Regions from separate parts of the Homo sapiens genome. Here all the other regions are linked to region 6. The links come from fine-mapping of genetic effects on gene expression. A gene starts in region 6. Each other region holds a variant in brackets. All regions are shown on one strand. Distances are from middle to middle. Region 1 overlaps SUSD1 (sushi domain containing 1). Region 2 overlaps SUSD1 (sushi domain containing 1). Region 3 holds the start of LINC02977 (long intergenic non-protein coding RNA 2977). Region 4 overlaps SUSD1 (sushi domain containing 1). Region 5 overlaps SUSD1 (sushi domain containing 1). Region 6 holds the start of SUSD1 (sushi domain containing 1).

The links. PIP is the estimated chance that this variant, and not a neighbour inherited with it, causes the effect.
Region 1: its variant is fine-mapped to the expression of SUSD1 in whole blood (TOPMed, PIP 0.98).
Region 2: its variant is fine-mapped to the expression of SUSD1 in cerebellar hemisphere (GTEx, PIP above 0.99).
Region 3: its variant is fine-mapped to the expression of SUSD1 in whole blood (TOPMed, PIP above 0.99).
Region 4: its variant is fine-mapped to the expression of SUSD1 in whole blood (TOPMed, PIP above 0.99).
Region 5: its variant is fine-mapped to the expression of SUSD1 in whole blood (TOPMed, PIP above 0.99).

What each region holds. Positions count from the first base shown.
Region 1 is chr9:112,077,086-112,082,244 of GRCh38, reverse strand. SUSD1 (sushi domain containing 1) reads left to right here. Exons shown (of 17, transcript NM_022486.5): 11 at 2,080-2,171; 12 at 3,521-3,707. Among named protein-coding and RNA genes, the nearest start is that of LINC02977, 39 kb to the right of the region's middle. RefSeq lists an enhancer at 5,055-5,154. The variant C/T (reference allele first, on the strand shown) is at 2,493.
Region 2 is chr9:112,113,953-112,119,111 of GRCh38, reverse strand. All of the region lies in intron 6 of SUSD1 (sushi domain containing 1), which reads left to right. Among named protein-coding and RNA genes, the nearest start is that of SUSD1, 59 kb to the left of the region's middle. The variant T/C (reference allele first, on the strand shown) is at 2,601.
Region 3 is chr9:112,036,678-112,041,836 of GRCh38, reverse strand. SUSD1 (sushi domain containing 1) reads left to right here. Exons shown (of 17, transcript NM_022486.5): 17 at 345-1,054. The coding sequence ends at 345. It overlaps LINC02977 (long intergenic non-protein coding RNA 2977), which reads left to right and starts at 1,413. Exons shown (of 3, transcript NR_186812.1): 1 at 1,413-3,658. RefSeq lists enhancers at 1-165, 1-770, 166-805. The variant TTTA/A (reference allele first, on the strand shown) is at 2,322.
Region 4 is chr9:112,049,009-112,054,167 of GRCh38, reverse strand. It overlaps SUSD1 (sushi domain containing 1), which reads left to right. Exons shown (of 17, transcript NM_022486.5): 15 at 1,730-1,769. Among named protein-coding and RNA genes, the nearest start is that of LINC02977, 11 kb to the right of the region's middle. The variant T/C (reference allele first, on the strand shown) is at 2,032.
Region 5 is chr9:112,143,831-112,148,989 of GRCh38, reverse strand. The region is part of intron 3 of SUSD1 (sushi domain containing 1); the gene reads left to right. Among named protein-coding and RNA genes, the nearest start is that of SUSD1, 29 kb to the left of the region's middle. RefSeq lists an enhancer at 3,463-4,662. The variant TC/C (reference allele first, on the strand shown) is at 2,809.
Region 6 is chr9:112,172,483-112,177,641 of GRCh38, reverse strand. SUSD1 (sushi domain containing 1) reads left to right here and starts at 2,345. Exons shown (of 17, transcript NM_022486.5): 1 at 2,345-2,509. The coding sequence starts at 2,407. It also overlaps the pseudogene RPL29P20. RefSeq lists a silencer at 2,227-2,886.

The sequences.
Region 1 (5,159 bases), 95 kb after region 6:
CAGTTTTTGTATGTTGCCTTTCTGTTATTTTCAAACAGTTTCATGTTTGATTAGTTGAGTCTCTTAGATTTACTGGCAGTTGCATCATTTGTTGCTCTTTCTGGCATTTATAGCTCATTTTTTTTTCTTGCCTTTTTCTGCATTGTCTAGAATCTCTTGAATAAGGCTCAGTAATAGCTACAAGACCAGACATCCTTGTATTGTTCTTAACTTTACTAGAAATTGCTTAATTGCTTTACCACTGAGTGTGGTGGTTTCTTATAAACCCTATTAAACTAAGGCGTTTCTGTCAAATGAAGTCCTAGCTCACTAAGATTTCAAGTTAACAAAGTATATTAAATGTATTAACAGTTCCATTTATAAAAGTAACCACATGGTTTCTCTCTTTTAACCTATTAATAGCTTTTCCAATAATGATACTCTCTGTATTCTGGGAATAAATCTTTGGTCGTAGTGTATTGTTCTTTGAATGTACTACTGACTTCTTTGTGCTAATATTTTATTTTGGATTTTTGTATTTATATCAACAAGCAAATTTGGCATAGGATGTTTAGTGATTGGCTGTGCCATCCTTGTACAGGTCGGGCATTGTGGATTATTTAGTCATATTAAATGATTTGGGGACCCTTCCACCTTTTTGTATAGTCTAGAACTGTTTAAATACTATTGGAGTTATTTGTATTTTGAAAGTTTCAGAAGTGTAACTTTGGACCACTACTACTAATCTCCAAACCTGTCTCTACCCAGCTGTGGGTCTGCATTAACCTGGAATCATCTGTACTCCTCCTGTTCCTTACCACCTGTTCATCTTTTCCTCCTGTTCCCTACCTGCTCCGTGTTGCAACATTTGAGGTACAGCTTGTGACTTGTACAGGTTTTCTTTGTGCCAAGCTGCCCAATCCATAGAGAGGAGTCGTGTCTACCAACTTGGCTTCATTTGTAGGAACCTGTCAGGCCAGGGAGTTACAAAATACAGCCTTACCTTTCATGAGACCTTCCTTTTTTCACGTAATTTGGGAGTTGTCTTTATCACTCGTTAATCATCACAGTGTTCCTGTGAAACTTCTTAGCAAGTCTGCTCTATTATTTCCACTTTAGGGACAGAGATCCTTATTGAAGGAAGTAACCTCTGATGTCAGGGTTTTGAATAAATAGTCTTTCTTGACTACTTGGATGGGTGTACCTCCACATTAAACTGTATCAGATCTGAACTGTCTTTTAGATTGATTACTATGAAACTGAGCAGAGGACAAGAAATATTTCTTTGCTCACAAGAGATAAGGAAGCCCAAACCAAGAGAATCCCGCCACCTCCTATTCTTTTCCTCATGAAAAACCTGATTGCTTCAAAGCACTTTTTTCAGTTCCTCAAGGAGCAATTCTCTGCTGAAATGTTGCTCTTAGCTCAGAATTTCGAACCGACACTTATTTGTATAAATGAGGGTATACAAGGTCCAGGACAAATAGTTGTAATTTTAGCTTAGTAAGCCAAGGAAGCTTGCAGTAAATAGACTCAAATAATTTTTTTCCTTTTTCTTTTCTTTTTTTTTTTTTTCTTGAGACAGAGTCTCACTCTGTCACCCAGGCTGGAGTGCAGTGGCACAATCTCTGCTGACTGCAACCCCCGCCTCCCAGGTTCAAGCGATTCTCCTGCTTCAGCCTCCCAAGTAGCTGGGACTACAGGCACACACCACCACGCCCAGCTAGTTTTTGTATTTTTAGTAGAGATGGGGTTTCGCTATGTTGGCCAGGCTGGTCTCGAACTCGTGGCCTCAAGTGATCTGCCTGCCTTGGCCTCCCAAAGTGCTGGGGTTACAGGCGTGAGCCACTGTGCCCGGCCCACTCAAATAATTCTTAAGAGGGGTCCTCCGATTAGGTATCTTTGGATCTGAAATCTTTCATCAAGACTGAGTTTACCTAGATATAAAAGTGGTATTACTTTGAGACTGCTACCACTAATTTCTAAATTAAAATACTGTTGAACTCATGCTAACACTTATCCTTGGAAAAATGGCTCAATTAAAAGGTAGCATTTTTTCTATAGAGTGTAAATTGATTTCTCATTTCTTTTCCACTACAGTAAAACAGACCATCAGTAACATTTCAGGATTTAATGAAACCTGCTTGAGATGGAGAAGCATCAAGACAGCTGATATGGAGGAGATGTATTTAGTAAGTGACTGAAAGTTACTGTATTTATAGATGGTTGTCTTATGTGGGAGGCTTAAAAATACCCACAAACCTAAAAATCTACATCTATAACTATCATTATCAGTAGACGATTTACTGTGACAATTGCATCAAGAAGCAAGAAGATGGCCACTTCTGTGTATTTAAAGACAGTGGCTGGGCACAGTGGCTCACATTTGTAATCCCAGTACTTTGAGAGGCTGAGGCGGGCGGATCACTTGAGGCCAGGAGTTAAGACCAGCCTGGTCAACATGGTGAAACTCTGTCTCTGCTAAAAATATAAAAATTAGCCGAGCGTAGTGG[C/T]GCATAGCTGTAATCCCAGCTATTCAGGAGGCTGAGGCAGGAGAATAGCTTGAACCCAAGAGGTGGAGGTTTCTGTTAACCAAGATCGCGCCACTGAACCCCAGCCTGGGTGACAGAGCAAAACTTTGTCTCGAAAAAAAAAAAAAAAGGAGGGGGAAGACTGGGATGAACTTCTACTGGAAGAAATTAAGTAAGAACAAAAGGGTGTCTCTTGGCCGAAGTGTCAGGGTGGTTAAGGAAAGGGTAGGGTCACCAGAAGCTGGCAGGAAGAGGAGAAAAACTGTTCTCAGGTTCTAGCAGACCAGCTACGAGTATTCTAATTCAGGTCCTGCTTAGTTTGGATTCCTAATATTCTTTCTAGGAAAATGTTCTTGTCCTTGCTCCTGCAGTTTTGCCAATAGACTTTCTTGTTGTGTATGTGCACTGTATGTGTGAGAATAAGGAGAAAGCTGCCAGTATTGGGACCTTAGCCTTTTGTGTGTTTTTATTTAAAAATATATTTATTATACAAATAATATTTTAAGTACAATATTTATAGTATTGCAACTCTAATATTTGCTTACTGCTGCATTTCACCTTTTGAAGAAACATTAGAGTCCAGAGAGAGAGAGAGAGGAAGAAAGCTCATGAAAACGGGAAGGGGCTGGGCGCGGTGGCTCACGCCTGTGATCTCAGCACTTTGGGATTCGAGGTGGCAGATCACTAGAGCTCAGGAGTTTGAGACCAGCCTGGGCAACATGGCGAAACCCTGTCTCTACAAAAAATACAAAAATTAGCTGGATGTGGTGGCATGCATCTGTGGTCCCAGTTACTTGGGAGGCTGAGGAGGGAGGATCACTTGAGCCTGGGAGGTTGAGGCTGCAGTGAGCCGAGGTCATGCCACTGCACTCCAGCATGGGTGACAGAGTGAGGCCCCCATCTCAAAAAAAAAAAAAAAAAAAGAGAAAGAAAAAGGAAAAGGGGAGGTTTCAAGGCATCTAAAGCCTTTTAGGCCAACCATTCACCCAGTGAGCTTTTTTATGTTTCAGTTCCACATTTGGGGCCAGAGATGGTATCAGAAGGAATTTGCCCAGGAAATGACCTTTAATATCAGTAGCAGCAGCCGAGATCCCGAGGTGTGCTTGGACCTACGTCCGGGTACCAACTACAATGTCAGTCTCCGGGCTCTGTCTTCGGAACTTCCTGTGGTCATCTCCCTGACAACCCAGATAACAGGTAAATCTTGAATAACAGCATTTGGATTAACAAAGTTACCACAGAATTGTTCATAGGTCCTGATAAAGAGGAACACTGTTGCTTTTTATCATTATATAATGAACTTTAACAGGGAGAGGAGGAAGGACATGGAATTGGAGAGGTGCCTTAAGGCGCCTCTGTGACTGTTATGTTTCATTCTTTTTTCTTTTTTTGAGGCAGGGTCTTGCTCTGTCGCCCAGGCTGGAGTGCAGAGGCACGATCATGGCTCACTGCAGCCTTGACCTGGGCTTAAATGATCCTCCTGCCTCAGCCTCTTGAGTAGCTGGGATTATAGTTGTATAGGCCACCATGCCTGGCTAATTTCTGTATTTTTTGTAGAGACGGGGTTTCACTATGTTGCCTAGGCTGGTCTCGAACTCCTGGGCTCAAGCAATCCACCTGCCTCGGCCTCCCAAAGTGCTGGGATTACAGGTGTAAGCCACTGCGCCCAGCCTGTTATGTTTTATTTTTAAAAAGATACCTAATAACCACAGGGGAGGTCTGTGGGGAGGGGGAGGGGGAAGATACCTGAAACAAAATGTCAGCATTGATGAAATGTGGGTAGTGTGTCCATCCATGGTGTTGGTTGTATAGCTTCTGGATATTTAAAGCATTTAAAATACTTTATACTTAAACAAAAAATGCTTGTGGCTCTTTCTTTCTCAGGAATATTTAGTTGGCATCCTGTTGCAAGTACTTTAAGAGTAGATTACTAGCTAGGCACAGTGGCTCAAACCTGTAATCCCAGCACTTTGGGAAGCTGAGGAGGGTTGATCATGTGAGGATCATTTCGAGATCAGCCTGGCTGACGTGGTGAAACCCCACCTCTACTAAGAATACAAAAATTAGCTGGGTGTGGTGTCAGGTGCCTGTAATCCCAGCTACTCGGGAGGCTGAGGCAGGAGAATTGCTTGAACCCAGGAGGTGGAGGTTGTGTTGATCTGAGATCGCACTCCAGCCTAGGCAACAAGAGCAAAACTCCATCTCAAAAAAAAAAAAAAAAAAAAAAAAAAAAAAGTAGATTACTATCAGGGGACAATGATTGTAGTCCTCCGGCTATAGGGCCCCAGTAAATTCACTTTCCACTCATTTTCTCCTCCCTCTTCACATCTGTGACCCCCACTTCACACATGCTCTGAGCAAATACTAAGCATATTAGCTTCTTGATTCTTATTTCACTGAGAAATTAGAAGTAGTCAGGTGAGGACTTCCCACGCTCAGCCCTGCCGTTCCTCCTTGCATCCTGTTCTGCCTCCCTTCCTGTCCCTGCTCGTGTGTAAGGCTGCCATCCCCTCAACTTGTGCCTTAGATCCCATCCCTTCTTCCCTGATCAGCACTTCCCCTCAATACAGAATTATCCCCAGCATTGCCTAGCATGTTGCAACATCCTCCTTGTGAACGAAAAGAAAGAAAAAATGAGCAGACCTTCTT
Region 2 (5,159 bases), 59 kb after region 6:
GTTAAGTGACTTTTACATGGTCACTCAATAATTAGCAAATGGTAGAGCCAGGATTTGAACTGAGGCCTGTAAGCCCAGAAAGACCACATTCTTTCTCCTACATCAGTGTCTTCCAAGCTTGAATTATTTGTATACCACCCTGACACAATGTTTGCCATAATAAGAGTATTATTTACTTAGAGTGTTTCCTTAAACAACCTAACCTTAAATTTATAATTCAAATTTATTAAGGACAATATATGTGATCTCATGAGTTTGATGAAGTAGGTGTATTTTTCTGATATACACAAAAACTGATACATAACGAACAGATAAAAATGTATTCCTGGCTGGGCGCGGTGGCTCACGCCTGTAATCCCAGCACTTTGGGAGGCCGAGAAGGGTGGATCACCTGAGGTCAGGAATTTGAGACCAGCCTGGCCAACATGGTGAAACCCCGTCTCTACTAAAGATACAAAAATTAGCTGGGTGTGGTGGCACGCGTCTGTAGTCCCAGCTACTCGGGAGGCTGAGGCTGGAGGATCACTTGAACTCAGGAGGCGGAGGTTGCAGTCAGCTGAGAACATGCCACTGCACTCCATCCTGGGCTACAGCGCAAGACTCCGTCTCCAAAAAAGAAAAAAAGTATTCGCGTGCCACCAAAAATCATCCCAAAGTGTGCAATATATTTTACACTAACGTACTCTAAGCCATGCTACTCCTACTTATTTTATGTGAATCTAAGACTTCAAAGAAAGAAAGGAAACACATGAAAACTTTTATAGCCAAACATACATTTATTCAAGTAGGCACTGTGGGAAGCCATACCCTGATTTCTGTGGTGCTGCCATTATCATCATGTGTTTGCCTTGGAATCCTATTTGATAATGTCCTTTGGAGGTAGTTTATGAGCCGTATTAGAAGATCAGTTACATTCCTTTTGAAATCAGATGCTGTTTTGACTAGAAATGATGCTGAGCTTGCTTGACCATCTGTTTGGGTCACCTGGATTTATTCTCTATGACCTTTTGCTGTTTCCAAAAATAAAGAAAAAGGATATAAAATTGGAAACCAAGGGAGTACACTAGACCAGCCCCTGTCCTTGCACAGTGGGACTTCTGAAAGAGTAGTCTGGGCTCACTGTCTTATTCCCTCCCCTCCTATGCTCTTCTCAGCCTACTGGGGGGAAACCAGGCATCGAACACCCCCACTTCACTGTAGCATCTCACCAAGGTGACTGATGACTACCTAACTGCCAATTTCATGTTCCAGTTTCAGCTGTCATTCTTCTCAACCTTTCCACAACATTTAGCATTGTTGATCCTTTATCCATCCATTCAACCAGTTCAACCAAATAATACATAGTTTTTAGTATCTATATTTAAGGCACTGTGCTAGGGCCTGAGGATAGAGAGAGAAACATGGTCTTTGCCATCGTAAAGTTACATTCAGGAGAGGTGGTCATTATATAATGACTTACGTATTTAGTTACAAGTGTGTTAAGTACCACATACAGAAATACTAGATGCTAACAAAATACCAAAATACATAACATTATGTACATCTATATCTATATATACATAACATATATATGTACCTGTGTGTACACACACACACATAGAGTAAAGCAAAACAAAGGCTCTTACTTTATCACTCACTGAGACTTTCTCTCCCCAAATCCAGTGAGACTTCAGCTGGACACTGTGGGGGCCTCCTTCTTTTAAGCCAGAGAGGCCTCTGTGTTCTACAACTGGGCAGGCTGAGGGCCTGCTCTTCCCACCTCTACCCAAAGTCAAACCACAGATCTAATCCTGATGCCGTGGGCACTCCATGAGGGGAGAAAAGCCATGTGAGAGGAGAGAGGGAGATGGAGTTTGCACCCTCTGCCTTGACCTGCTCCAGGCCCTTCTTGGCTAGGGGATGAGGAGGCTGTGGGAGACTGGTGGGAAAGAAGGCTGATAATTTTCTTAAAAGAATTTATTTTTATTTTTTAGGGACAGAGTCTTGTTGTATCACCCAGGCTGGAGTGCAGTGGCACGATCTCAGCTCACTGCAACCTCCGCCTCCCAAGTTCAAGTGATTCTCGTGCCTCGGCCTCTTGAGTAGCTGGGATTACAGGTGTGCACCACCACACCTGGCTAATTTCTCTATTTTTAGTAGAGACATGTTTTTGCCATGTTGGCCAGGCTGGTCTTGAACTCCTGGCCTCAAGTAATCCGTCTGCCTCGGCCTCTCAAAGTGCTGAGATTACAGGTGTCAGCCACTGTGCCTGGCCTTGGAAGGCTGAGAGACACTCTTTCAAGTCCTTCCTTTCCTTCCTAGACATCAGTCACTCTACCAGCCTCCTGCCTCTCTTCTGCATTGCCTTTTTCCTCTGGTTCCCCCCTGGGTTTCAGTGTTTCCCAGTGTTCTGCCATTGGGCCATTCACTGTCTCTGTCCTACCTGCATATCTCACCTGCACCCATACCTTCAACTAACATTCACAGATCTATGACTTTCAAGAGTACTTTTTCCCTACATAGTCAGCAGATAACATCGTCACAGCCCAGTGCCTGGCATGGCAGGATGCTTGGCATTTGATAGCCATTCAGTTAGTAGTGAGCAGGGAATGAAAGAGCCC[T/C]GGGACAGCTCCAAAGAGGACTTCCAGAAATGTTTTCAGTTATCAGCACTATTGGAATGAGGGCATATAGTCTCCATTAAAAGGGCAGCATTAATGTAGATGTTGAATATCTGATTCTTTTATAAAGGAGTCTTTCCAACTAATTTGTAGGCACCTGGAGGGAAAAGCAACCAAACTTTGTTAAACTGCTCCCTGGGATGAAATATCTGACACCCCTATAATTGGATCTGGGTCCCATCTGTGCAGAGAGCATGGCACAGGCTGGAGGCAGATGGCATCTTTGAGATGCCATTTACAGTTGTCATAGTGAATGAGCAAGAAGGAAGGACAAGAAAGAAAACTCCTTTCTAATCTCTGCTTCGATGACAAAGGAACTGAGAGTAAAAAGGAAATTCGCTTTGCTGGCAACTCAGAGAGAAGATGAGGGCTGGGCTGGTGCCTTTTCTTTCTGGACCAGGTGGTGAGTTAGCATCAAAGGGATGTGTAAGTGAGCAGAGATGCCAAGAGCTCTGGGGCTTTGAAGGGCAGCAAAGAGGGTAGAGGCCAGAAATATCTGGGGCTTGTTCAGGCTGATAAAAGACTGGTACCAACATCATCTTTATGCTACCCAAGGGGGCGAACTGAAGGTCATTGTGTCTCTTAGGGTACCCATGCTCATAATTGGAGTATTTCTTTTCTTTTTTTTTTCTTTTTTTTTTTTTTTGCAATGGAGTCTCATTCTGCCGCCCAGGCTGCAGTGCAGTGGCACAATCTTGGCTCACTGCAACCTCTGCCTCCCAGGTTCAAGCAGTTCTCGTGCCTCAGTCTCCCAAGTAGCTGGAATTATAGGTATGTACCACCACGCTTGGCTAATTTTTTTGTATTTTTAGTAGAGATGCGGTTTCACCATGTTGCCCAGGCTGGTCTCAAACTCCTGACCTCAAGTGATATGCCCATCTCAGCCCCGCAAAGTGCTAGGATTACAGGCGTGAGCCACCGCACCCACTTGGCCCACAATTGGAGTATTTCTTTGATTTCAAATTGTGTGTGTTCTAGGGAGAAATACTGATATAGAGATCCAGGAATGCTGCAGACAGCCATAGGTGGCCTTTCTGGTATCTCGGCAGGAGTTTGCCTATTTTTCCCTCTCTGCCTCCATTGATTTTCACTTGCTAATAGATAACTTGGGCTTACCCAAGACCAGGTCATGTGGGACACAGAATCTAGGCATTGCTGCTGAAGGGATGATTTAGTAAAGATATAAACTCTTCTTTGGGCAGAGAGGTCAGTAGATCTGGGTCAATCCAAAGCTAGCATTGGTTCTGAGTACAGGAGAATAGGATTGGCCCTACAGGTACCTAAGGTGCAGGCTTCCTTTTGCACTTGGAGACTGCGAAGAGATTTACTAGAAGGGAGAAACGGGAGCTGAGTTGTGGAGAGTCATTTTCTGACATGGAGAAATAGCTTTCTCACTCTTCTTAGATGGGAGCCTTTCACTGGGTTTATATTTATTATGCAGTAGAGAATCAAATCCCAGGCACCAGGAGTGGGAAACAAGGGCAGTAAAACAGGGAAAGAAGGAGAGTCAGCGTATGATGCCTGATTGTACTGGTCTCCACAGAGGGTGGGCATTACCACATCTGTGTGACAGTGTCCTTAGACGCTGAAGAAACTAAGTCTTTGTTGGACAGCCCTTCAGAGGAAAGAAAGGAGGAAGGATTTCTCTACCAGCTCCTGTCCCCACAGGATTTTAACTCCCCTGCACTTCCAGATGGCATGTGCTGGGGTGTGGGTGCTGCAGCAGGGAAGTCCCAGAATAGGAGGCAAGACCTGGTCATGTTGTCAAAACCCATCCAGGGATGGGACAAGGAGCAGGGGAAGCTGAGAGAGGCTGAGGAGTTCTTAAGAGGTGTCTGCTTCAATGGGAAAGCTTGAGCTGGGGCTGTGGAATATCCCTTTTTGGTGACATGAGGACAACTTTCTCTGGGAATAATTATATGATAGCTTCTGTCTGCAGGAATTTTGTTTGTTTGTTTTTGTTTTTGTTTTTGAGATGGAGTCTCACTCTGTCACCCAGGCTGGAGTGCAGTGGCAGGATCTTGGCTCACTGCCACCTCTGCCTCCCAGGTTCAAGTGATTCTCCTGCCTCAGCCTCCCAAGTAGCTGGGACTACAGGCATGCACCACCATGCCCAGCTAATTTTTGTATTTTTAGTAGAGACGGGGTTTTGCCATGTTAGCCAGGCTGGTCTTGAACTCCTGACTTCAGGTGACCAACCTGCCTTGGCCTCCCAAAGTGCTGTGATTACAGGCGTGAGCTATTGCACCAGGCCTGTTTGTTTTTGATAGTATTGTAAATGAAATTGTTTTCTTAATTTCATCTTTGGACTGCTCATTGCTAGTATATAGAAATACAATAGATTTTTGTACATTGACCTTGTATCCCGCAACCTCACTGACCTCCTTTCTCAGCTGTAATACTTGTTTTGGTGTGGATTCCTTAGAGTTTTATATATAGAAGTATATAAGATTGTATCATTTGCAAGTAGAGATAGTTTTACTTGTCTGTAGGAAGTTTATT
Region 3 (5,159 bases), 140 kb after region 6:
CTGGAATGGAGGGGAGGATGGGTCAGAGTCACGAAGAACAGCTGGGGATGAGGGGAGTCAAAGGGAGTGTGGGTGGAGGTTGTCCTTGGCTCAGCAGAGCACACTCAGCGGTGAAAGGCATGACTAACCCTGTACCTCCAGGTAGCATGGGGGATGCCTTCCCAGGAAAAGAGCAGGACCAGTGATGGCTGCCCTGGCCACACACAGAGGGGTGGCTGAGCTTCCATGCTGCTCCCCCTCGCCTCCTCCCATGGGTGTGCGTGTGAGCTGTGCATAGAGATGCACAGTGGGAAAACCAAAGTGTGTTCATATTTGTCTCTTTTCTTTTCCTCCTCCATGTCTAGATGGCAGATGGACACTGAGTGGGGAGGATGCACTGCTGCTGGGCAGGTGTTCTGGCAGCTTCTCAGGTGCCCGCACAGAGGCTCCGTGTGACTTCCGTCCAGGGAGCATGTGGGCCTGCAACTTTCTCCATTCCCAGCTGGGCCCCATTCCTGGATTTAAGATGGTGGCTATCCCTGAGGAGTCACCATAAGGAGAAAACTCAGGAATTCTGAGTCTTCCCTGCTACAGGACCAGTTCTGTGCAATGAACTTGAGACTCCTGATGTACACTGTGATATTGACCGAAGGCTACATACAGATCTGTGAATCTTGGCTGGGACTTCCTCTGAGTGATGCCTGAGGGTCAGCTCCTCTAGACATTGACTGCAAGAGAATCTCTGCAACCTCCTATATAAAAGCATTTCTGTTAATTCATTCAGAATCCATTCTTTACAATATGCAGTGAGATGGGCTTAAGTTTGGGCTAGAGTTTGACTTTATGAAGGAGGTCATTGAAAAAGAGAACAGTGACGTAGGCAAATGTTTCAAGCACTTTAGAAACAGTACTTTTCCTATAATTAGTTGATATACTAATGAGAAAATATACTAGCCTGGCCATGCCAATAAGTTTCCTGCTGTGTCTGTTAGGCAGCATTGCTTTGATGCAATTTCTATTGTCCTATATATTCAAAAGTAATGTCTACATTCCAGTAAAAATATCCCGTAATTAAGATTGTTCTTCCCTTGGTTAATTTTTCTGTTACTAAGCGTCTTCTAAAAATGCTCTTTGCCCCCTGTTAGAAACTGAGATTTGGTGGTAGTGTAGTAGCAATGCTTAAAACAGTATTGAGCCCATGGCTAGACTAGAGTCCATGTGTGTTTCAGGGGAGGGGTTGCCATAGAGGGTGACACTTCTTTTATCTAAACTTCAGTAACTATGAATGTTACTCCATTATGAACTATGAAACATTAGATATAAGCGGTGCTGGACCTACTGTGAATATGCTAAGTTGACAGCTGGAGTCTATTTGATTTTACTTTTAAATCATGAATTGGCATTCTTTCCTCTTTTTTTTTTTTTTTTTTTTGAGATGGACTCCCACTCTGTTGCCCAGGCTGGAGGGAAGTGGCGTGATCTCAGCTCACTGCAACCTCTGCCTCCCGGGTTCAAGTGATTCTCCTGCCTCAGCCTCCCATGTAGCTGGGACCACAGGGCCCCCCCACCACGCCCAGGTAATTTTTGTATGTTTAGTAGAGATGGAGTTTCACCATGTTGGCCAGGGTGGTTTCAAACTCCTGATCTCAGTTGATTCGCCCACCTTTGCCTCCCAAAGTGCTGAGATTACAGGTGTGAGCCACACGCCCGGCACTAACTAACAATTTAACTCCAAGACTCAGTAAGAAACGAATGGGGAAGGAAAGACAGAGGCTTCTGGCATCTCTCCTTCTCCCTTGCCTGCTAGGCCTAGAGAAGAAAAACCATGGAGGAGGGGAGGTGATACTGCACAGCCTCAAGATGCAGCATAGACGAATGCAGTCCTTAGCAAAAGGAAAGGGCTTCCCAATGCAGTGGGCCGGTGTGTTCACCGGCTTGCTGGGTGTCAGTGAGGGAAGACTCTGAGTGCCTTGGGCTTATGGGCAGATGAAGAGACAAGAGGAACAAGTACAAACTGCCCATGTAGCTGCTCCACCCCAGGGAGTCCAGAGTGTATCCGCTCTATTGGGAAGAATTAGAGAGAGGCGAGTAATATCCTGACATTCAGGTGTTCAATGCCAGCTGTCAGCCTCTGGCCCCTGCCAGTGTTAGGAATGATTCCCCTGTCCTCTGGGGTACTGCCCTCCGACGACAACTTAGGATCAGCATTTAAAACCCTTTCTGCTCTCGTCTTAGGTAAATTATAGACCAGAACGGGTCTATAATGGGGACAGGTCCCCATCCTAACCCCCAGAGACCGTTTCTCTCAATAGATGAATACAAATAGCTCTCAATTTTTAATT[TTTA/A]TGTGCAATAATGCAAACATACTTTTTTTTTTTTTTGAGACGGAGTCTCACTCTTTCTCCCAGGCGGGAGTGTAGTGGCGCTATCTCGACTCACTGCAAGCTCCGCCTCCCGGGTTCACGCCATTCTCCTGCCTCAGCCTCTGGAGTAGCTGGGACTACAGGTATCCGCCACCGTGCCCAGCTAATTTTTTGTATTTTTAGTAGAGATGGGGTTTCACCGTGTTAGCCAGGATGGTCTCGATCTCATGACCTCGTGATCCACCCGCCTTGGCCTCCCAAAGTGCTGGTATTACAGGCATGAACCACCACGCCTGGCCGCAAACATACATTTTTATAGCTCCTGAACTAAATTGGGTATCAATACAAATTACTGTGGTTAGTGTAGGGCTCGGCCTCTGATGAGTGAGGATCTTTCCTCAAAGCCCACCTTTGTCCAAAGAAAGAATCTGAGCCTCCCCTTGACTTATTTTATTTTTTGCCAGTTTTGTAAATGCTGTATGCTTCCATACTACCCCCTTCCCTAATTTCCACCTCTAGAATTAACTGCCAGAGATACAGTTGTCCACATGGAATGTAGTATAATTGTGATAGAAAGGAAGAAATCCCCCTTGCTTAGTATTAAAAGTTTCTGGTTAAAATAACTGACTAAATATTAAGTAAAACATCACCTTCTGGGTACAATGCAGAAAAGTAAAAGCAGTTCATATAAGATTACTAAACTTTGGGAGGTCTTCAAGACCAGCCCTGGCAACATAGCGAGACCCCATGTCTGCAAAAAAAGTTTTAAAAATTAGCCGGGCATGGTGGCGTGCACTTGTAGTCCCAGCTACTCAGGAGGCTGAGGCAGGAGGATCGCTTGAGCCCAGGAGTCTGAGGTTGCAGTGAGCCGTGGTGACACCACTGCACTCCCGCCTGGGTGACAGAGTGAGATCCAAAAAAATTTACTGAAATAACAAAAACGTGGACTTTGGGATTTCCTCTAACTGCTGCAAATTATAACACAGAATTGCTCAGTGTTAATACTTGAATTGTGGGGCCAAGTCTTCTGGCTGCCCTAGTTCTCTTTTCTGGCATTTGAAAGCCCTTGAGCTAGCTATGGAGCTAATCTTTGGACAGGCTTTTTGGTTCCCAGGAATGTCATGCCTTTGAATTTCCAATCTATATATATACAGTGTGTGTGTATGTATACCTGTCTTTTCACTGTAAGGCACCTCCACCCATCCCTTATAGAAGGAGCCACAAACAATCAAGCAAATGGATGGAGGTTAATTAAGGGGAAGAGGAAATAGTCTGTTCTCTGACTCGAGACCTGAAATTGCAGTGGGGCACGTAAGGTAAGACCAGAGCAGAAGTGATTATCTTGAAATTCCACTTTAGCTTGGAATAAAATTAATATTTAAATTGATTTTAAAGGAAATAAAAAAGAACATTCAGTGTTCCCTTTTCATTGCTAATCTCACATTTTCTGATTTTCTAAACCTTTTGTTTTCCCATTCTTTTCTTCTAAGAGGAACTCAATGGTCTCATAGAAGTCAATCAAATAGCGTTGTAAGAACCTTTTACCTACCACATCCTTTGTTGGTTAGACTGAACCAACAAAGCAGTGCCTGCTTCTGGGGAGGAAGGATGTGGCCTTTTCTGTGCCCCAGTTTGTGGGAGGGTGAGTCCATGAAGCAAGTCAATTTAAAAGGCAGTGTGTGCTCTTGTTTCAGAGAGAGTGAATCCTTTGGGTGGTGGTGGTGGAGTATGTGTGTGTGTGTGGTGGGTGGGGGGTGGGGCATGCACATCTAGATCCATACTTTTTGGGCTCAACTCAGGGTTACCAAAATAGAGTCAAACTCAACTCAGGATTACCTAAATGGAGTCAAATTTTGTGTGTGGTTTTGTAACATGATTCTTTCAGTCATCATTTCCAGGCCACATTTTTCATGTCACTCATGACTGCATTATAAGTTTGTACCATAATTCATTTAACCAATACTCTGTTGTGCATTTAGAATATTTTCAGATGTTTATTGTCCTTATAAAAGTCAGTATGAAGGTATGCAATTATCACTTAGGCCACATTCCTGGAAGTAAAATTGTTGGAATGGAAACTATGTACATTTTACAGTGCAGATTGCTGGAAGAGTTTTATGCAAAAACTTATACAAAAATTTACACTCTTACCAGCAGAAAGCCTCAGCGCCACTGAGTGCTGTTGTATTGTTAATCTTGATTAATCTGGTATGTGAAGAAGGATGTTTCAATGTTTTGTCTGTGTCTCTCTGATTATTTTGCTTGTTGATTGGCCAGTTGTTAATTCTGTCTTTGTGAGTTGTCTTTTTCTCAGTACTTGGCCTATTTGTCTTTGATTTGAAAAAGCTCTTTATGTTGTAGTCATTTTAATTCCTGTCATATGTTTTGTAAACAATTTTTCGAGTTCATAATTTTTCAATCTTGTTTGTATTATATTTTGCCACACAAAAATTTTAAATTTGTATAGTCAAATTTATCAGTCTTTTTCCTTATGTTGGACCTTCTAATCTCAAGGTACTAAATATAATCTAGCATTTTTTTAAACATTAAAAATTTTTAATCCATCTATAATTTATTTTAGGATAGGGAGTGAGGCAGGGGAAGGTATCTTTTTAAATAAAAATCGTTGCTAAATGGTTGGCTAGTTGTCCTATTAATAGTCATTGAGACCAGGAGCGGTGGTTCACCCCTGTAATCCCAGCACTGTGGGAGGCTGAGGTGGGAGGATCACTTGAGGTCAGGAGTTCGAGACTAGCCTGGGCAACATGGCGACACACAATCTTTACAAAAAATAAGAATTAACAGAGGCCAGGCTCA
Region 4 (5,159 bases), 120 kb after region 6:
CACTGTTTTGTTTACTGTAGTTTTGTAGTAAATTTTGAAATCAGGGAGTGTGAGTCTTCCAATGCCCCATTTTGTTTTTCCCTTTGTGTATCTGTCCCAGTAAATAGCATTGCCATGCCTCCCATTGCTAAGACAGAAACCTGTAAATAGTTCTTGTCTCTTCCTTCTTTCTTACCTTCTTATCCAGATCATCAGCAAATCATGTCAATTCTACCAACTTAATTCTGTTTAAAATCATTCTTTCCTCTCCTTTGTCTGCACTGCTCAGACTTTGTCATCTCTTGCCTGAACATCACTTTTCTACCACATCTTTCTGTCTCTTATTCTACCCGTCTCCTTGCTTCATACCACTGCCAGCATGAGTTTTATAAAATGCAAGTATGATCCAGGCATTTCAGTTTAATAAGCTCCCTTCTTCACCTGGCCCCTGCCAGTTTCTCTCCTTTGATATACTCCATTCCCCCAAATGGCCTTGCTATTTGAAGTCCCTTCCATTCTCCAGTGTCTTGAAATATGTTCTTTACTGGTTATTCTTGCACATTACCTTCCATTTCTAATATCTGCACTTAGCATCAAAGCAAATGTTAGTCACATTCAAACGCTTATGGCTATTTTAAGCTTTTCTCAGATTTTTTTTTTTTTTTTTTTTTTTTTGAGACGAAGTCTCATTCTGTTGCCCAGGCTGGAGTGCAATGGTGTGGTCTTGGCTCACTGCACCTCCGCCTCCTGGGTTCAAGTGATTCTCCTGCCTCAGCCTTCCAAGTAGCTGGGAGTACAGGCGCCCACCACCACACCTAGCTAATTTTTATATTTTCAGTAGGGATGGGGTTTCACCATGTTGGCCAGGCTGGTCTCGAACCCCTGACCTCAGGTGATCTGCTCATCTCAGCCTCCCAAAGTGCTGGGATTACAGGTGTGAGCCACTGTGCCCAGCAGCTTTTCTCAGAATTTTTAAGCTTAAATTAAAAAAAAAATTAATAAAATCCAAACCAGAATGCCCAAGGCTGTCATTTGAAAGAGACTCTCCTAATGACATTGGAAGGATCCTCCTCTAACCCTCACCGTGCAGCTTCCTCTGGGGAATATTTTCAAGTCTTATATAGAGCAAGTCCCCAGCATTTGTAACAGGTAAATAAGCATATCATAATGACAGGGGGGAAGAGATATTCATTCCACTGAATCTATAGATTTCTTCTACTATGGATGAGCTTTCATATATGTTCCTGTTGCTTTCTTCCCGGTTCATGGACACATTTTGGGTAACTGACGTTGCTAAGTGACATCTAGATAGATGAAGTATTATATACTGGGACTTCTCATAGCTTTGCCTCTAACATGCATCACTACTTCTTGCTGAACCTTCTGAACGTGTGACCTCAGAATCCTTTTCAGCATAATTCTCTAGGCGGTCCATGCCAGTTGCTCAGAGCTGGTCAGGGGAATGGTCCTTTTTGTCACTCCTGTTGTTGGCCTATCATATATGCTTTCCAAGACCTGTTGGAAACCTATAGAAGTGATCTGTAGGGTCACTTCTGTCCATGCAACCCACGCCGGTCCCTTGAACACTTAGTGATATCACAAGATATTAGAGCTAGATTGGACTTTAAAGGTCTAGTTCAGATTAAGAGATTGAAAAAGCTGAAACTCAGAGGGCTTCAGCCTCCAAACTATATTTAAACTGACACTGTGTGCCACCTAGCTAAATGCATTGCTATGTTTTCCTTTATAGGTGAGAAGACACTCCTGTGCAGTTTGGGCTCAGGTGAAAGGTAAAATTATTTTCTGCCTATGAATGCTGTCCTTATTTCTTTTCTGCAGCATCAAGTTCATATTGATGAGATCTGTTTATATAATTGTCACTGGTGACCAGAACCCAATTCATACTACTTTAAGCAAAGAGCTTCATAGCTGAAAAAAAATGGGAGGAGGGTGAGTGGATGGGAGCTTATGGAATTATACAAAGAGCTACCCCACCAAGAAGGCTCCAGGAACTGGGACTGGGGACTCAACACCGTGAGTGGGACTTTCTAT[T/C]TTTCTCTTGTTTCAGTTCTCTGTTTCTAAGAGTCACTTGGCTTCGTTTTCTTCTACTGTAGGACATGTGAGAGGGAGTGATGGCAAGCTCCCGCAGCTTACCGATTTCACTGGGAAAACATAGCTTTTCAATTCGGGGAAAGATTCTTTCCTGCTAGGTTAAGTGACTGCCCATTGGATGAATCACTGTTACTAGGAGATGGGCTAGGATGATTGGCCTCCCTTGGGTTTTATGTCTCCTCATGGCTGGTTGGAGGCAGAGCAGTGTGAACAATAGGTCCACTAGGTTTGCAATGAAAGGGAGACAAAATCCCTATCAAGAAATGGGGCACAGGAAAAGATGCCGAAAAGCCAATACAAGAGCTACAACAGTCCACTACCATTCGGCTGTGTAGCTTGTGCACATACACATATAATATTAAGAAAAACTGTAATCCCAGCACTTTGGGAGGCCGAGGCAGGTGAATCACCTGAGGTTGGGAGTTCGAGACCAGCCTGACCAACATGGAGAAACCCTGTCTCTACTAAAAATACAAAATTAGCCAGGCATGGTGGCACATGCCTGTAATCTCAGCTACTCGGGAGGCTGAGGCAGGAGAATCACTTGAACCCGGGAGGCAAAGGTTGCGGTGAGCCGAGATCGCGCCATTGTACTCCAGCCTGGGCAACAAAGGCAAAACTCCATCTCAACAACAACAACAACAAAAAAAAAAAAAAAAAAAAAAAAAGAAAAGAAAAACTTCTTCCCTTAACAAAATGGAACTATCCTATGCATGATCCCACATGGAACCCTAGTGGAAGACAACTGAAAGCTGGGTCCGTTACTGCATCCAGCTCCAAGACCAGGAATCCTGGGGATAGCATCTTCCTCTTGGTCAAGTCCAGATGTGTTTCTTGTGCTCTATTTAAGTAATCTATGACTAAATGGCAAATTTAACCAATCTCAAACCATAATACATAATATGAGAGGGAAAACTGAATAGCACAATAAATACGCTCATTTAGAAAGGAGGAAAAGATAAAGCAATGTACAGTGGTCAGGGGGCCCTGTAGCAGTGATCACCTCTTGCTGGGCAGGACAAGCAAGCATCCCCTGCCCTGGCAGCAGAATGGGTCACTTGGGTGGTCAGTTTGGGTCTGCCTGATGGGACCCCTTGTCCATTTCCTCCAAAGCCTTTCCTTAGAGATGCAGTGGGAACATTTCTGCTGAGCGCTGTATAGCTTAAACCTTTGCCTTGGAAGAGTTATCCAGGCGGGGAAATTGCCTTAGGGTTTGAGCAATCACAGGTCTTTGTTTTCCAGGCTCGGGATTTCCCTGGCAGTACAGTACATTTCTTTAAAACCAACAGGCAGCCAGCCAGTGGATTTGATTCCCAGGAATTCCATTAGTTTGTAGCTAATACCAGAAATCTTGTTGAGTTTATGACCTTGGAATCTGGACCTTTTCCGTGTGGTTTGTGGGTCCTAGCAACAGGCTGTCAAGTTCTGCCCTTAGCCCACAGTATCAGTTTAACCCTTTACCTCCTCTCCCCGCCTCAGAGCAGCATAAAACAATCAACTGGCATGGTGAGGAAGTGCCAGCATAAACTTGCTTCCCTAAGGATTCCACTGGATAGCACTTTTTAATGGGGAATTTTTTATCCTGTCAGTAGAGAATACTGTGCAGGAAATATCTGGGAGGGGCCTGGGGAATTAGGCTTCCTCCATTTGTCTGCTTCTCTCCTGATCTTATTTTCATCTTTTTACCTCTGCTCAAACCAACTGCAACAAGGGTAGAGGACTTGGCTTTTCAGCAGGGTGCAAGGCGGGTTACCTGACTGTCAGCCATCTTGGATTGCTGATGACCAGGCAGTGAGGGCCCCTCTTGACAAAGATGGGTGCTGTCCTGTTTCTGTGTGCAGATGGGCCAAGTCCCTTTACTTGTAGGACTTTAATAAAGGCCACACATTCCAACATTCATAAATTTTTTTTTGCCAGTCCATCCCCTGAAGCTCTAGGATTGGGCATGGCGTTCTCACGAGGAAAAGAGATGCTTTTATCAGAATAATTAAGATGACAAAGCTTCCAGACACAAAAATAATAGCTTCCAGAATCCACTCTACTCAGCAGCTGTTTGCTATGATTGGAAGACATTCAAACTGGGTAGAAGAAATCGCCAAAGAGCTGGCTGCAGTCATTCTGCTATGATTAAATTAACAGGGAGGATTTTGCTTTGAAAATATCTAAGTGGCTTTGGCAGTGCTCTGGTTTCCCCTCAGCTTGAGAACCAATATTGAAGGAGAGTTTGAGCCTTTGAAATTAAACCACTGGAAATCTCTGGAAGATAATAGGAAAAACACTGTTCTGTGGAAATTCTGAAGGCAATTCTAGCAATACTTTTTTATGTATAACATTTACCTGTGTTGTGCACCCATCTTGGGCAGTCTACTTTTTCAAAAAAGTTTGGAGACTGCCATTTCAGAAAGTAATTTGCAGAGAACCGAGATCTAAATTAGTCCTGAAATCGTGCCAGTTCACTCGTGCCAAGGCTCAGCCCCATTCTGGCCTTTGCCCAGTGACAAATTATGCTATTTACCTTTTGCATATTGCCCCTAGAAGAGCTTTGTAAAGATGATCAGGAAACCAGCAGTCGGTTTGATGGAAGATGCAGAGGCCTGGGCTTACTTGCCTGAGTCTTCTGCTACTAATCAGCCAAGTGTCTTTGAAATAGTATTTAACTTGGCCAGTTCTCAGTCGCCCTCTCTCTGGGATCTCTGAGATGCTTTCCAGCCACAGAGTATTATGAGTCTGTGATTTCTTGAGTCACAAAGCAAGGTCATTTGATATATGTGAGATGATAATAAGCTGTAATCGGGGAACATTCTCCAGTCGTAAGCATGAAACCTCTGAGTTATTCGGGACTACTCCTTTTTCTCTTTCAGCCCACATTTAGCACCTTGGGCACGCCTCTCTGATTTTCATTTCTGTGTTCACTCCCTGAGCATAGGCCTTCCTACCTGTAGCAGGGATGACGGGCAAATCCTCCTTCCTCATCTCCCATCACAAGAGTTCAGAATTTCCCTCGTCATTCCAGCCTACACACCACCACCTGACTTGTTTCTAAACTCAGAACTGATTTTGTTTCCTCT
Region 5 (5,159 bases), 29 kb after region 6:
TTGGGGGGATGTGGGTCTATGGGAGTTCATTGTAATATTCTTTTTCTTTCATTGTAATGTTTTGTTTGAACTTTTTTTTTTTTAAGGGGGGGGTCTCACTCTGTTGCCCAGGCTGGAGTGCAGTGGCACAATCTCGACTCTCTGTAACCTCCGCCTCCTGGGTTCAAGCGATTCTCCTGCCTCAGCTTCCTAAGTAGCTGGGATTACAGGCACGCACCACCATGCTCAGCTAATTTTTGTATTTTTGGTAGAGATGCGGTTTTGCCCCATTGGCCAGGCTGGTCTCAAACTCCTGGCCTCAAGTGATCTGCCCGCCTCGGCCTCCCAAAGTGCTGGGATTAGTCATGAGCCACTGCACCTGGCCTGATCGTTTTCATAATGAATAGTGAGGAGGGACTCTCTGGAGATGGTGTGCCTCCTGCAGGTTCCTGTAACCACAGGTCGGGGGTCCTTGGGGTGAGTGGCACTCCTCAGCTCAGAGCACACTAATCTGGGGGCTGGCACCCGGCTGTTGGCTCACAGGAGGTCAGAGTTGTCCCTGTTAAGAGATGTGGGCTTGCCTCCCACATGTGTGCGCTGAGTGAGGAGTGCGAGTTTTGGGAGCATGGGAGCTTTGTAGGCTGGGTCTCTGAGCATAGGCTGGTCGAATACAGGGTGGGGACAAACCCTCCTAATTTTTAGCGGCTCCTCTGTTATCTGAACTCTATAAACAGCATACGCTATTTAATGTTGCTCTCTGGCTTTCTAGGAAAATCTTTGAACAATAATGAAGAGGAAAGGCAGAAAAAGCCTCCTGGTTCTAAGATGCTTTTGCATAGACTTAATGACTCTGCTGGAAAGCTTCGTGATATTTAAAGGTTTTCAGGAAAAATAAAATGAAAGGAGAACATATTTTATCTTCTTAGCTACCAGGAACCGTAGGTTCTTATGCTCGGATTCATCCTCCCTCTTGACCTGTACCAAGGCAGAATCTCTCAAAGGATACATTTGATTTATTCTTGGCACGAATGAACACATTCCTTCAGAGAAAACATTTTATAATATCCTGTTGTTCTAGGTAGCAAATTACTGGCTGCATGGTTGCAGAAGTACAATGTTACAGTATTAAATTTTGTATATTAAGAAGAAAAGACACTAAAAAAAAAGCATATAAGATGATGATCTAGTGTTTTGTTTATTCAATACACATTTCTCATGTACTTTTTCTTTTCTTTTCTTTTTGAGACGGAGTCTCGCTCTGTTGCCCAGGCTGGAGTGCAGTGGCATGATCTCGGCTCACTGCAGGCTCTGCCTCACGGGTTCAAGCGATTCTCCTGCTTCAGCCTCCTGAGTAGCTGGGACTACAGGTGCGCACTGCCACGACTGGCTAATTTTTGTACTTTTAGGAGAGACGGGGTTTCACCATGTTGGCCAGGATGGTCTTGATCTCTTGACATTGTGATCTGCCTGCCTTGGCCTCCCAAAGTGCTAGGATTACAGGCGTGAGCCACTGTGACCCAGGCTGGAGTGCAGTGGCACAATCACGGCTCACTGCAACCTCTGCCTCCTGCGTTCAAGCGATTCCCCTGTGCTTCTCCTGTCTCAGCCTCCTGAGTAGCTGGGATTACAGGCACCCGCCACCATGCCCAGCTAATTTTTGTATTTTAGTAGAGACAGGGTTTCACCATGTTGGCCAGGCTTGTCTCGAAGTCCTGACCTCGGCTGATTCACCTGCCTCGGCCTCCCAAAGTGCTGGGATTACAGACGTGAGCCACCACGCCTGGCCTTTCATGCACTTCTTATATGACAAGACTGTGCTAGTGGAAGGGTGACGAGCAGACAGCTAATTTCAGTATAAAGTGTTAGTCATAGGTAAGCAAACAGCATTTACTGGAATCTAGGGGTCACTTATCTTGGCTGTGAGGAAGGAATCAGGGGAATCTTCTGGAGAATATGATCCCTGAAATTGTGTTTTCTAGGCTGTGGGAGTTTGCCAGGGAAAACTTACAACTGTATATTTATCAGTATGTTTATAGTTCCAAGAGATGAATTCAGCTTTTGAAAGTTATGAAGAAGGCTGGGCATGGTGACTCACGCCTGTATCCCCAGGACTTTGGGAGGCCAAGGCTGGAGGATCACTTCAGACCAGGAGTTCAAGACCAGCTTGGGCAACATAATGAGACTTCATCTTTACAAAAAATAAGAAAATTAGCTGGATGTGGTGGCTTGTGCCTGTTGTCCTAGCTACTTGGAAGGCTGAGGTGGGAGGATCGCTGGAGCCCAGGACTTTGAGGCTGCAGTGAGCCAAGGTTGTGCCATTGCACTCCAGCCTGGGTGACAGAGCGAGACTTTGTCTTAATTTTTTTTTTTTTTAAGTTAGGAAGAAGAATGAGGAGGAGGAAGAGTGAGAAGATTGGTGGGAACAGGAGGAGGGAAGAAGAGGGGAAGAGGAAAGAGAAAAAAATATTTTATGTAAGGGCCAAATAGGTGTCAGCCGAACTAGACCTAATCTGCCTGGAACTAAATCCAGATCTAGGCTCTACTTTTATTTATTCCATTCTTGCAATGATTGAATGACCTTCTCTTTTGTAAAAAATTGAGCTATAGTTTACATACCATCAAATTCACCCTTTTGATGTATACAACTCAGTGGTTTTTAGTATATTCACAAAGTTGTGCTAGCATCACCACTGTCTCATTTTGGAGCATTTTCATGCCCCCACCATGAAGACCATGTCCACTGGCAGCCATTCCCATGACCTTTCCTTGTGAGTTCTCCAGTTATCACTTTGTAAAAGCTGATGAATTGCTTTTCTTGATAATACTGTT[TC/C]TTTCAGAATCACAGTTGCCAGAGAAACATCAGCGGGCTTTAGCTGGGGCAGAGCTTAGCAAGTGTTGGGGTATCAGCAGTTAGTCACTGTTTGCCTGGAACCACAGGATGTGAATCCTAGTTCCTGGATTCCAAGGAATCCTGCATCCAGGTGTTTATTGTGCTTTGCAGAGTCAACATCAAGCTCAGGAGCTGGTTGCAGGTAGGCCTCTGAATGTCACCAATGTTAGAGGAGGAATGAATTGCTGGGGTTCTAGTGTGAGATGATTCCAGCCAGTCATGGAGAACAGGCAGATGTTCTGGCCCTTAGAACTGCCCCCTGAATGACTCCTGGGAATCATGGAAACCACCATGAGCCACAACCCAGGAGAAGAAGCTCTGTGGCACTTCTTGTGTGAGGGTGGTTTGACTTGGATGGGCTCCTTCAGCAATTGAATAGAATTACTGGTTCCCAAACAATAATTGGTGTGAGTGGAGAGGCGTTCATTGATCCAAGACCCAAAAGGAAAAAGAATAAAGAATATAAAAGTTCAAAAGGATTCTGAGGCAATTTTCTTTTATCTTTTGGGGGCTAAAATGTCATTTAAGAAAAAGAAATTATAGCCAGGTGCATTGGCTCATGCCTGTAATCCCAGCACTTTGGGAGCCAACTGGGTGGACAATTTGAGGTCGGGAGTTCGAGACCAGCCTGGCCAACATGGTGAAACCCTGTCTCTACAAAAAGACACACAAAAATTAGCCGGCGTGGTGGTACACACCTGTAGTCCCAGCTACTCAGGAGGCTGAGGCAGGAGAATCAGTTGAAGTCAGGAGGCAGCGGTTGCAATAAGCCAAGATCACACCATTGCACTCCAGCCTGGGCAACAGAGTGAGACTCTGTCTCAAAAAAAAAAAAAAAAAAAGGAAATTATGGTATTACTAGCTTTTTGAAATTTTTTTTTTAAAAAACAGACTTTCTTCAATCATGCTGCTTCCTGTCTTCTGCTCAATCCCTGATGTTTTTATGCCAATGTCCTAGGAATTTCAGTTAGGGTGCTTTTTTGTTTTCTCCAAGTGGAATTGAACTATGTGGCTCTGATGAAAATAGTATTATTATTATTTTTAGAGATGAGGGTCTTGCTGTGTTGCCCAGGCCGGCCTTGAACTCCCGGACTTAAAGCAATCCTCCTGCCTCAGCCTCTTGAGCAACTGGGACCATAGGCATGCCCAGGCATGCCCAGCTGATGGAATTCTTAAAGTTTTAAAGTCAGTTCTGAGGGAAAAAACTACTAACTGGAAGAGAGATTTCTTCTCCAGCCTCTGGCTTATTGGGCAGTTTTTACCCTATACCTGCTGCCTCTGATAGTCTTCAGTCAGGTGCAAAAAAATCTGCAAAAGGGCATGTCCTGTCCTTCCAGAAGGCTGTTTTAAGGCTGTCTCATTTTCATAAAATTAGTAAGACCTTTCCTAATTAAGTTACCACCTTATTACCTGCCACACCATCCTATACTCATGGGCTGGCATTTTCACTCTCCTGGAGATTGTTTTCCTTATTTAAAACATTAAAAATGTTGTTTATATTTTAAGTTAATTTTAAGACAGGTTCTCACTTCGTTCCCAGGCTGGTCTCAAACTCCTGGACTCAAGCAGTCCTCCCAAAGTGCCAGGATTACAGACATGAGCCACCGTGCCAGGCCTGTAAATTGTTTTCTATCTGAAGCCCTACTTTAGATGTTTTAGTATGAGGTTGGGACCATTCTTTTGTTATAATGATTGGGTATATTTATAGTGATTGGATATATTTATAGTGATTGGATATATTTATAGTGATTGGATATATTTATAGTGACTGGATATATTTTAGTGACTGGATATATTTATAGTGACTGGATTCTTTTAGTGATTGGATATATTTATAGTGATTGGATTTTTTAGTGATTGGATTTTCTTTTTTTTTTTCTTTGAGACGGGGTCTTGCTCTGTCACCCAGGCTGAGTGCAGTGGCGTGATCTCGGCTCACTGCAAGCTCCGCCTCCTAGGTTCAAGTGATTCTCCTGCCTCAGCCTCCTGAATAGCTGGGACTACAGGCATGTACCACCATGGCTGGCTAATTTTTGTATTTTTACTAGAGATGAGGTTTCACTATGTTGGCCAGGCTGGTCTCGAACTCCTGACCTCAAGTGATCCACATGCTTCGGCTTCCCAAAGTGCTGGGATTACAGGTGTGAGCCACCATGCCCGGTCAGGATATTTTTTAGTGATTGGATATATTTATGTTTTTGGTTCATTTTGTTGGGTGTCAGGGAGCCGGTGATGGTTATCAGCTTTTGTAAAATCCCAGAACACACTGACAAACATTTATTGAGCACTT
Region 6 (5,159 bases):
CTGACATTATCAATAAAAAATGTATATACATATATACTTAAGTTTATTTATTTTGCAAGGGGCCACAGTGGGGATGAAGTGGTATAGGCTGGTTAAAAATCTTAAGTGAATGGTATATTTGTTGAAACAATGACATGATTTCCAAGTTTGAAGTTTATGGAGAGCTGAACTTAAAAAATTTGTCTAAATAATAGAGACACACCGTCCATCTATTGCTCCCCAAACAGGTGCCTGTCTTTGTTGATCAAAAATAATTTTCAAGAAAGCCTGCTAAGAAAAGAGCTTGTGAGGCCAGATGCAGTGGCTCACTCCTGTAATCCCAGCACTTTGGGAGACCAAGGTGGGAGGATTGCTTGAGCCAAGGAGTTGGAGACCAGCCTGGGCAACATAGCCAGATCTTGTCTCTACAAAAAAAATTTTTTAAATGAGCCAGGCATGATGCTGCGCCCCTGTAGTCCCAGCTACTGGGAGGTTGAGGCTAGTGGACTACCTGAGCCCAAGAGGTTGAGGCTGTGGTGAGCTGTGCACTCCAGCTTGGGCAACAGAACAAGACCTTGTCTCCCCAAGAGGAAAAAAGAGCCTAGGAAGATGAGCTTTTTCTTTGTTTGTTTTTGTTTGTTTGTTTTTTTAAGAGAGGGGGTCTCACTGTATTGCCCACATGGGCCTTGAATTCCTGGACTCAAGCAATTCTCCTGCCCTTCAGCCTCTTTAGTAGCTGGGACTACAGGCATGCCACACTTCACCCAGCTTGAAGTTGATTTTTAACTACTTGTTAAGACTCCACAACTTTAGCCCTTATATGGGTGTGTTTGAAAGTGGTGAGATTTACGGCAGGCTCATGGCAGAGAGTAAACAAGTGAGGATATGGGGTGAAGTAGTGGGGTGCCTGCTCTCGGCTGCGCTCCCACAGACATCACAAGCTCAAAGCCTTCAAACCGGATCTTATTTATTTCCTTCTCCCCGACTAGTCATAAAACCTAGTGGATTCCACTCTTACACACTGCCCTCTTCACACTCATTTGTCAATGCCCAGCTGCAGGACACATCTATCTCTATCTCTATCTGTCTGTCTGTCTGTCTGTCTGTCTATCTATCTATCTATCTATCTATCTATCTATCTATCTATCTATCTATCTATCTGTCTATGGAGTCTCACTCTGTCGCCCAGTCCGGAGTGCAGTGGTGCGAGCTCGGCTCACTTCAACCTCCGCCTCCTGGGTTCAAGCAATTCTCTCGCCTCAGCTTTCCGAGTAGCTGGGATTACAGGTGCCTGCCACCGTGCCCACCTAATTTTTTTTTTTTCAGTAGAGACGGGGTTTCACCAAGTTGGCCAGGCTGGTATCGAGCTCCTGACCTCAAGTGATCCACCCGCCTCGACCTCCCAAAGTGTTGGGATTACAGGCGTGAGCCACCGCACCGGGCCAGGACATGTCTTCTATTGCCTGATTCCTGCAGCAACTCCGGGCTGGACTCTTTGCCTTCCACATCCCAACCCAACCCCAATCCCAATTCCACAGAACAGACAGAGATGTGTCAGTGATGAAGTCATTCACTGCTTGAAACTGTGACAGCTTCCCGGCGACCTCCATCACTTGGGTTAGGAGGGCTAACTTCCCTCTGCAGCTCAACGCCCCTCTCCAACCCTCTGCTCTCACTCTAGGTCCCCATTCCCCATTTCTACAACAAACTCCCGCTTAGATTCCTCCCCAACGTCCTTCTCATCCTTGGGTCTTGGTTTACTCCTTCCCTTGGGATGAGTACGGCTGTGATGGAGGTAGGGGCTGGCATCAGCGCGTCCCAAGCCGGGTGTCCTCAGAGCAGCGGGGACTGATGCCAGCCCCTCCCTCCATCACAGCCCTACTCTCTCTCACTCCCGGTGACCAGGTGTCACCTGGTCAAGTGTGTCGCCCCTGGGTGGCCTGGGTCTGCGTCTTCCGACCTCTCATCTGGGCCTTGCGCTGTGGTCACCTCATCCAGCTCCCTTTCACGTCCTGGAAGATTTCCGCCCCTTGCTCCCCTCACCCCTCTCCCCGGGGGTGCCTCCCTGAGCCCTCGAGTGGCTTGAATCCTCCGCAACATTTCCTCCCCAGCACTCTCCGGGGCTCTGCGTCCAGCTGTGTCATTATCCGATGAGTGTCTGTCCCCCTTTGCGAATGTGAGCGGCGAGAGGGCAGCAAGTGCGGAGCCAGAGACGGACGCGGAACGGGCGTGTCCTAAGCCCAGGCCCCGACAAGAGGAAGGACCCGCGCTCTGCGGCCTCCCGGGGACCCCGCAGCGCCCCCCGCTTCCCTCGGCGGCGCCGGAAGCCGCCGGCTGGTCCCCTCCCCGCGGCGCCTGTAGCCTTATCTCTGCACCCTGAGGGCCCCGGGAGGAGGCGCGGGCGCGCCGGGAGGGACCGGCGGCGGCATGGGCCGGGGGCCCTGGGATGCGGGCCCGTCTCGCCGCCTGCTGCCGCTGTTGCTGCTGCTCGGCCTGGCCCGCGGCGCCGCGGGAGCGCCGGGCCCCGACGGTGAGTGCGGGCTGGGACGGGCACGGGCGGCCGGCGGGGCCCCCGGCTGGGCCTCGAGGACTCTGGGCGCACGGACGCTTCCCCGCCCCTGGGCCGGGCCGGCGCGGTGCCGAGGCGTGGGGCGCAGGTGGGGCCCGCGCCGGCCGTTGGAGATCGGCAAGGAGGAGCTCAGAGAAGCGGGGGGCTCCCCGCCGGGCTTCCCTGCCCCCGCCCGACCCCGCGACGCCGGGGGACGCCGGTTTTAAGGCGGCCTGGCCGGGCCCCCAGGGACCTCCACTGCCCAGGAGGCGGGGTGGGGGCTGGGCGCGAGCGCGGACCCGGGCAGGGCGGCGCCCGGGGAAGGGCGGGGAGGCCAGGGCGTTCTGCGGCGCTGTCACGCTTCCGGCTCTGCGGTGGCTTTTGCATGACACATTTTTGACCCGAAGCAATTTTCTTACCACTTTTAATTTTTTCACGTTGTTAGAGAGCCGGATGCTAAATATGGTGAGAAAGACGCGTAAGGAAGAGTACAGGAGTGAAGCCATTAATTCACTCATTCATTCAACAGATGGCCCTTGAACAGCTTCCCTGTGCGCGATGAGGGCGGGCAGTGCGGGCCCTCGTGGAGCTCATTGTCTGGAGGATTTAGACCAGCAAATGTTCTATTTCCAAGCAATCGAGGGAGTTGTTTTTCCTCCTCTGCAAAATGCAGTGTTGAGCTGAGTAGGAATTACACAGAGGATTCAGACACGCAGGGGAGGTGACATTCATCCACATAACTGTAATACAAGGCAGAATGGCATGGGTGCCATGAGAAGGTGTGGGTGGTGAGGGCAGGGAAAGGGGAATCGGTGGTGACCCTTGAGCTGGGCCATCAATGATTGGTCATATTTGGATATGGGAAAATGTGAAAAAGGTATCCCAGCTCATAGCAGAAGGCACTGTCACCTCTCCACAAATGAGTGTAGAATGAATGAATTCCTTCAGAATTCAGGCCCGGGGGAGAAGGGAAGGAAGCACACGGAGGCACCAGAGGCAGAGGGCAGAGTGCCTTGATTGGCAGACCTAGGCCTTTGGACTTAGCTGTGCCTGGAAGCCACTGGAAGCCGTCTCAGGGAGTGACAAGAAAAGTGGGTCTAGCCAGTTCTAGGCGCTTCGGGAGCCACAGGTTACAGTGCAGACATGGCCAAATCCAAGCACCACACCACACACAACCAGTCCCGAAAATGGCACAGAAACGGCATCATGAAACCCGGATCACAAAGATACGAATCTTTTAAAGGGGTGGACCCCAAGTTCCTGACAAACATGCGGTTTGCCAAGAAGCACAATAAGAGGGGCCTAAAGAAGATGCAGGGCGACAGTGCCAAGGCCATGAGTGCACGTGCTGAGGCCTTGCCCTCATAAACCCCAAGGAGGTTAAGCCCAAGATTCCAAAGGGTGTCAGCTCTTGCCTACGTTGCCCACCTCAAGCTTGGGAAACGTGCTCGTGCCCGCATTGCCAAGGGGCTCAGGCTGTGCCAGCCAAAGACCAAGGTCAAGGATCAAACCAAGGCTCAGGCTGCAGCTCCAGCTTCAGTTCCAGCTCAGACTCCCGAAGGAGCTCAGGCCCCTACAAAGCCTTCAGAGTAGAGATCTGTGTCTGCCAACGTGAGGACAGAAGGATTGTCCCCCTTGGACTGCCATCTGCATGGGGCTGATGTCCTCCTTTGCTATTTGTATAAGTAAACTTGAGGCGGGGGAAAGAGGGTCTAAGGAACCCCCATCTTCCTTACTAAAACCAAACGCTGATCCTGAAGTGGAAGGAAATTTCCATGTGATGACATACAAGGAGACTTGTGGTTGAGAATCCTGCCTGCCGCCCCCACCCCCATTCTCTTTGGCTTGGGACTTTTACCATGCCTGATGGGTATTTCAATGGCTTGATCTTCTGGAGTGGCCATTTTTGTAATATTAGGTGCCCTGGTTAAGATTCCTTCCTTGGCTCTATCTCCGAGAACAGTGCGCATAGGACTTGCAGATGCTTGGCGTCTATTTCAGGATCTTCCTGTGATATCTCTAAGGTAGGAAACTGTCCAGTATGATCCCATTGAATTGTTAGACTAAGATGGCTGAACACAGCTAGTAGCTACGTAAGGTCATCTGTAACTAAAGGTTTTGGGGGTGAATTTGGGGAAACAGAAGTCAAGGCTTCCTGGTTGAGCCCCCTCTCCTTATCTAGACATTCTCCCTTCATGTTCAACCTTGGAGAACCTGGTTTTATGAAGGGCAGGTTTCCTGACAGTCGACAATGTAGGGAAAGACTGGAGGCTTGGACAAGCCCATTGAGGAAGTTGTTGCAATAGCTGGCCTGGAAGTTCTGAGGACTGGGCCCACAGTAATGACAGCAGAAACGGACTGAATGTAGACAGTAAGGTGGAAATGGACTGGAAGGAAGGATTTAATAACAGATATGAAGGTGCAAGGGAACAGAAGGGGAAAGATGACACTAAGGCTTGGGGGCTGGGTGACTTGGTATATGTTTCTACGGAAGGAGAAAGATTTGGAAAGAAAGATGATTAGTTGTTTTGGACATCCTGAATTTGAGGTGCTGTTATGGATTTGGAGAGATGAAATCAATAGACTTGATGGTTGCTTGAAACCTTGAAGTTGACAAGATTGGGAGGATGAA